2 linked regions of the Homo sapiens genome follow. The protein of the gene in region 1 interacts with the protein of each later gene in a pairwise test. Each region holds a gene or a part of one and is shown on either strand. Other genes may lie near its edges.

Region 1 (3,819 bases):
GTGACCAAGAGTTAAACCAGAAAAGCAGGGAGAGAAGGTTCCAGGCGATGGGAACTGTGTGTGCAAAGGCCCTGTGGCACAGGGAGCTTGGGGAGCTGAGAGGCAGACCCAGCTGGACCAGAGAGAGGCCAGTGTGGTGTGGGGAGGGCAGGCTGCATCGGACAGCATCTGTGGACCAGCAGCAGCAGGGGTCTTCAGGAGCCAAGATGGGGGACGCTGACGGACTTTAAGGTGAGGGTGTGAGGGGGTGGGTGAGCCAGGTTTGCACTTTGCAGAGGGTGCTGTGACTGCTGGTTGGTTGTAGGGGTGGGAATGGGAGGTGGAGGCCAGGGAGGAGTGAATCATGGTCCCGGGCTTGGGTCAGGGGTGCCCCGAGGATCTGGGGAGCAGGGGGCAGCTCTGAGCCACCTGGGAGGTTATAGATGAGGAAGGGTTGGATCCGGGAGTTGGGGTGAGAGACCTGGTACCGCAGGAATCTTCACAGCCAGTTGTCATGTGTGCCAAAGAGGAGGGGCCTGTGGAGCTTAAGTGACTGTGAAGTGTGTGAAGTTGCACAGTCAGTGGCAAAGACAGAGTGGAATCCGGTGCCCTCACCTCCTTTTAAATCCTGGTTCTCAGAGAAAGGACTCAGGTGGGCAGTGCGTCTTAGGCCAGTCCCCAGATGAGCCAGAGCAGGCATCAGGGTGGGAGGCGTGCGGCCCCTGACAGGGCACCTAGAGTTGGAGGCACTGACAGGAAGATGGTACAGGGGACCAGAGCCCAGGGGGTGCCTGTGGGTGCGTGCGTGTGTGTATGTGTATGTGTGTGTGCGCGTGCGCGCGCACGCGAGAGAGGGAGCATGTGTGCACGTTTAGGGGGTGTGTGTAGGCACGAGGCTTGTTTCCAGAAGGCTTGGGTGCAACTTTGGCCAGTTGTAAAGTTGGAAGAGGGAACTTCTAGGGTGGATGAGATGAGAGGTGGATTTCACAAGGGCATATGTTCGTCCAAACACAAGATCTGTGCATTTTAGTGTATGCTCTTATTCCTTAAAAAAAAACTTGACCCAAGGTCACTTGGCTGTCAGTTGTCACTTGTAGGAACTGGGATTCCAACTCGGGTCTGTCTGCCTCACGATCCTGGACAGACCCAGGAGTTGTGTTTTCGGCTCTTGGGGTGGAATGCACACACCTGCCAGGCTGTTTTCCATGAACAGCCGAGCTCCAGGAGACAGGGTGTGGGGAAAGGGCTGGGGCAGATGCCTCTCTGTTTTCAGAAGACAAGAGGGTGCACTGGGTATGCCGCTGCCAGACTTAGGGACAGGCAGACGGAGGCAGTAGCCTCCTCCTCCTTTGGAGGGTCTGATTTAGGCCAGAGCTGTGGGAGGACTGGCACAGGCGTGGTGCTCCCTGAAGGAGGGGGCAGGGACCTCAGTCATTGGGGAATGTCGGGTGTCCAGAAGTTGGACGTTGAAACAAGTGACCACATCTCAGGGGGACTCCAGGCGCGACGGGCCTGTGGGGACCCTGAGGAGGGAGCTAGGCAGGAAGGGGCGGTGAGGTCTGGGCTGGTGTGGGTGGCTGAGACCACCCTGCAGGCCTGGGAGACCAGGTGGGATTGGGGATTACCAGGAGAACTGGGGAGGCCCCAGGAGGGTGCTGAGCAGGGGAACAACAGGCTCTGATTTGCATTTTGCAAAGCTCATTCCGGCTGCACTTGGAGTGCGTGAGAAGGTGGGGGCTGGGCCAGGCAGCTGCAGAGGCCAGGAGAGAAAAGGAAGGTTCCCAGGGCACTGACTAGAGGTGTGAGCCTGGGGGTGGGTTGGGTGTGGGGGGGCATCCAGGAGACTCCGGGTCTGGAGCTGAGGGCAGCTGTCATTGTCCCTGCCTGACAGAGCTGTCGTTGAAAGATGGTCAGGGATCTCCTGGGCTGAGCTAGAAGTGGAGGGCGGTGGCCAGGTATGGGGTGGTGAGAGCCTCCCCTATAGGTCCCTGGACCTCGGCCTCTGGCTGCTTCTTAGAGAAACCTGGTGTGGAGAAAGGAAGGTGCCAGTGACTAAGGCTGGCCCAGAAGTCACTGAGGGAGGGGATGATTTTAAAAAGGGTTTCCTCTGGCCTGCACCCAGAACAACTTCGTGGGCTACAGCTGGGAGCCTGTAACTATTGGAAAAGGGCTTCACATCACATCCTGTAAATGCTGAGAAGAAGCTGGAGGAGGATTTCAGAGGAGATGCTGGAAACAGGATTTTCCTTTCAAGAAATACCAGCCTCAGCCTTTGTTCCTAAGACTCTTTGGGAACAGGTCTTGGGGAAGGGGTATTTTGAGCAGAGGCCATCCCCACCTCCAGGGCGCCCCATTCCTTACAGAAGAATTGGAAAGTTAAGGGGGCATCTTTGCAAAAAGAGTGAAAATGGCCTGCCCTCATGCTGGGTTGCAGATTTAGATGTAGCCCCTGTTTTCTGTCCACTGATCTTCATCCTGGTGCTCATTTTAGAAATGGGAGTTAGAGGGCTGGGTGTGGTGGCACGCACCTGTAATCCCAGCTACTCCAGGAGGCTAAGGCAGTAGGATTGCGTATGGCCAGGGTTCAAGACCAGTCTGGGCAATATAGCGAGATCTCATCTCTTAAAAAATAAATAAATAAATAAACTTTTATTTAAAAAATGGAGTGGAGAGCAAGTGGGGCTGGTTCCAGGTGCTCTGTCTGGGTTTCTTTGGCACTGGCTGTCATTGCCTTTGGAGACCAGAATGTTGGTCTCTTCAGACCTGCGGGAGCACTCGGAGGGGAAGGGACCCTCCTTCCTTGAGTTGGGTCCTGAGGCTGAAGCAGTGCCGGTCACAAGGTTCCCAGAGAAGGACACACACCTGCCTTCCCCAGGGGTCTATCACATTTTCACCCATGCTAATCTTAATCCCTCTTGCTGCAGCCTAAACCACTTGGGAAGGACGTGTGAGCCAGTCGCTGTGGGAAGGGCTTTCAGAGCAGCCCGATAAGTCCGGGGGCTATTTTTATGCTCTGTAAATTTGGTCTCTGCCGCCCACAGTGAGAACTTTGAGGTTATTAAAGCCTGTGGCAGGAGCGGTGGGGAGCTTCATACGATAAAAGAGAGAAGAGAGACCTGTGAAAACACATAAAGATGGGGCTTCCTGAGCCCAGGGAAGGACAGATCTCATCCCGCAGATGGGCAGTTTCTTGATCCGCCTTCCCTAATCCAGACTTGGGACCCCACCTCTCCCTGGAAAATCTCCTGGAAGAGAAAAATAAAAAAGTGGGAGTTCCCAGGACACTTAGAGGCTGTCGTATGGGTGTTAGTGTATTTGCTGGGTGCTGAAAAGGAGTAGTAGATGAACCTCTAAAGAGAGAATTGCAAACATATTCCTTTACATGGAGGTGCAGTCGTGCCCTGGGTGGGACCCAAGTAACATATCCAAGCACTAACCACTAACTGTTAGCCACCCCGGGCCAGCTAGGCACTGCCCCTTCCGAAGGGCCACAGTGAGAGGCTGTGGCAGAAACTTGAGCTTGCCAGCCATATGACAGCCTGCCCCAGCAGCCTCGGGCGCTCATGGTCACAGTCCAGTAGAGATAAGGGTTTGACGACAGTGGGTCAGGAGCTTGGGTTTGGAGTCATCTCCAGGCTGTTTTGTTTCTTTCGTTTGAGACAGGGTCTTACTTAGCCACCCAGGCTGGAGTGCAGTGGCGTGATCTTGGCTCACTGCAGCCTCGGCCTCCTGGGCTCAAGTGATCCTCCCACCTCAGCCCCCTAAGTAGCTGGGACTACAGGTGCACACCACCGCACCCATCTAATTTTTTGTAGAGACAGGGTTTCTCCCTGTTGCCCA
Region 2 (3,437 bases), on another chromosome or scaffold:
CATTGGTTTGGGTGGAGAGGGAAGGAGAAACTAAAGCCCAAGTTCAACACATTTGGGAGACTCCCAAATGAGATGTTAGAACAATGGTTATCACCCACCAACCAGGTAACTCATTCCACCTCCATGGGGAGGAATAACTGACAGGACAAGAGGCCAGGAATGTTAAAGAACAATCCTCTGCGTTGAAGAAAACATCCAGAGTGGAAAAGAAACATGTTTCTAACAGTGTAAATATATTTAAGTTAAAAAATCGTGATTTCACTATATTGAGAGAAGGGGGCGGGTGGTCTGAGGGAACCAAATTTTCATCTATCATAGTAGGAGTTACATGGATGTTGCCTATAATTCATAAATCAGGAAATAGTGAGATAAACATTATTTGGAGATACATAAGTAACCCTTGGAAGAAATAAAAACAGTTGTACACTGATGAGTTTCCTCTGGGGAATGGGACTGGGGATGGGAAAGGAAAGGGTGGGAAGGAAACTCTTCATTCTAAGCTTTTCTGTTCTACTGGATTTTTCAAACCATATGCCTGTTACTTTAATATTATATCAAATTAAAAGAATCATGCTTTTTCAACTGGGAAATACATACTCGGCAGTGGCTAGGTGGTGCTAGAAGTCACTGGATGCATTTTAGAACATCAGTTTTTCTTGAATATTTGTGAGAGGGAGTTAAGTAATATAAATAATATAACTGAAAACATTTTTGAATAAAAACAAACTCTGATGCATTATGTAGTCAAAACAAGCTTCTCTTGAATTTTTATATGAAATATGAGACTGCAAAGAAACTCAGCTTTGCTACAGGTTACTTGCAGCTAAATGTCTATCTTTCCTCTTCCCATGAACCAACCCTCTTCTGCCATTGAAACATTTCCATTGAGACATTGGAAATGCCTGAGAATGAGCAACATTTTAAAACAGTTTAGCACTTCCTAGATGATTACATAATTTCAGCAGTTATTTCTGATTTCCTTACTGATCTTATTTTCTTATTGATCTTATTTTCTTTCCTTTGATTTCTTGCTCTGAGCCCCTATGCTAATATGTTTTTCCTTCTGAACTCAGAGACACCCATTTATCAGTAATATGCATACATTTTCTTTAGTGTTAGTAATAGAAATTGCTTCCCCAAAAAATCGTCGAAGAAAAAGTGAGCTACAAATGACTTAGAATTTAGTCTAAAGTGTATTTGATTTAAGATACCCAGCGAGTATATCAAAACCAATATTGCTTCAACAACATTTGTTGAATACCTGCTAAGTGCCCAGGTCCTGAGTTTAGCACTGAGAATACAGAGCTGTTTAAGGACCTCATTGTCTCATGGGCCTCCATGTTAATGTAATTAATTAGGCTAGATGTTAATTAATAGTAATTAGCAGGGCTATTTACAGTGGCACCCACACCCCATGGTGTTTTCTGCTGTTTAGAGCAAAACTTGGAGTGGTCCTACTAAATAACCTGAAAGAAAAATGAGTGCTCTTACTTTATCCTTAAGGAAAGGTGATCTCAAGAGAGGAATAGGTTTGTCCAAAGGTCACCAGCTTAGGAATGGTAAAGCCAGAATTAAAATTCTATTCCCCTGATCCTTAAGCCACTACCCTTCCTACTTTGTCATGTTATTGAGCTTTCTAGGAGAAAAATTTGAGCCATATTACTTTTGTCAACCTTGCTAAAATATTTCATTTCTCTTTTCATATTTTATCATTAGTGAAGATTTTATACTATCCAACTTAAGATTTTGTATTAGTGCCTTCATAAATCTTTACTGTGGTCTAATTATAGTAAATAAAGCTGCATGTGTGTGTATGTGTGTATTATTAAGCTAGATTCTAAAAATGAATTAAATGAGTCTAATGATAGTAAATGAAGCTGCATGTGTGTGTTAGATTCTAAAAATGAATTAAATGAGTGCTTTATTATCCAGGCTTTATCACTCAAATATAAAATATAACAGCAGCAATATGATAATAGTAGTTAACATTATTTATATGCTAACTCTGTGCTAGTCCTGTTTGAGCACTTGGTATTCATTGTCTCATTTCATCCTAACAACAACCTGATAAGATGATGCTGTTATCCTTACTATAAGGATTAGGAAAATAGGGATTTGAAGGGGTTAAGTCACTTGCTAAAGGTCACATAGCAGATAGGTGTCAAAGTAGGCCTTAAAACCTAGGATTGTGATACTAGAGCCAGTGCTTTTAATCAGGTGTCAGAAGTGGATGAAATCAAGCACTATGGGAAATTATGATATTTGACTTTATCTTTCTAGAGCATCTTTATTTACTTTCAGTGGCAAGTGTGCTAGTTGTTTCATAGCTAAACAATCACATAGTATGAATGAGAATATAATCAGTTGTTGTTTCATAGCTAAACAATCACATAGTATGAATGAGAATATAATTAGTATACATAAGAATTATGTTTTTAAATTAGTCCCATCCTGTTTCTAGCATGTGAGCCCTAGTTCAAATCCCAGCTGTTTCAAAGCTACTTGTTAACCAATTGATAGCACCTTTTAATTTCCCCACCATAATTTTTATGACATAATTTATCATTAGTCTTCCTTGTGTTATAGATATTCGAATTTTTTTATTAGCTTCTCTGCTAGATTAAGTTATTTACACAGAAGCCATGACATATTTATCTTTATATGGCCCATAGTATCTCATAGAGTGAGATAATGCAAGTGGAAACTCTTTCAAAACTCTTAAGCAATTAGAGACAGTGCATAATCAATGTTTACCAAGTGTATATTTTCTAAGATGCCTTATTGAGCTATAAGTATATTTTATGTTTTGAATAAATTTTTACTGCAATTTGTGTAAAAATTGTTCTTTTTGAACAATTTTACTGACTAAATTAACTGCCCTCTGTGCCCTTTTAGTGTGTAGATGGGGTTTTAGGTGGTGAAGATTATAATCACAACAACATCAACCAGTGGACTGCAAGCATAGTGGAACAATCCTTAACACACCTGGTTAAGTTGGGAAAAGCCTATAAATATATTGGTAAGTATCAGTATCCTTCCTCACTAGTTCACTTGCTTTTGTCATTGTGATTTTCTCTGAATTTTGAGAAGGTATATGTACAATAGACATTTAAGTTGGATACTAAAAGGGTATAAAGGACTTCTGATTTACTCATTCAAAGATAATCTATAATAATACTTAAAAGATGAAGATCTTTCACTACTCAAAGGCAGTTTGAGCTACTTTTCTTTGGTAGCATCACCCTTTGCATTTCCATCAGTTCTTTCTTTCCACTGAGACCCCCCCTTAGCTCAACTGTGTTTCTTTCGGTAGTCCCATGCCTCTTTACCTGTAATTCCACACAGCAACTGTTTATAAAGTGGAGTATTTCCTGCATTTCTGTGTCTGAATTCTGCCCATGGTACAAAGCACAGAATTTGACTGATATTTTTCCTGC

The links.
Region 2: the proteins of TESC (region 1) and DYNLT3 interact in a two-hybrid assay, tested with the Homo sapiens proteins (one large-scale study listed by BioGRID and IntAct).

The regions. Positions count from the first base shown.
Region 1 is NC_000012.12:117,050,741-117,054,559, reverse strand, and holds part of TESC (calcineurin B homologous protein 3), read left to right. Parts: intron 1-3,819. UniProt on the Homo sapiens protein: Functions as an integral cofactor in cell pH regulation by controlling plasma membrane-type Na(+)/H(+) exchange activity. Promotes the maturation, transport, cell surface stability and exchange activity of SLC9A1/NHE1 at the plasma membrane.
Region 2 is NC_000023.11:37,841,364-37,844,800, reverse strand, and holds part of DYNLT3 (dynein light chain Tctex-type 3), read left to right. Parts: intron 1-2,895; coding exon 2,896-3,019; intron 3,020-3,437. UniProt on the Homo sapiens protein: Acts as one of several non-catalytic accessory components of the cytoplasmic dynein 1 complex that are thought to be involved in linking dynein to cargos and to adapter proteins that regulate dynein function.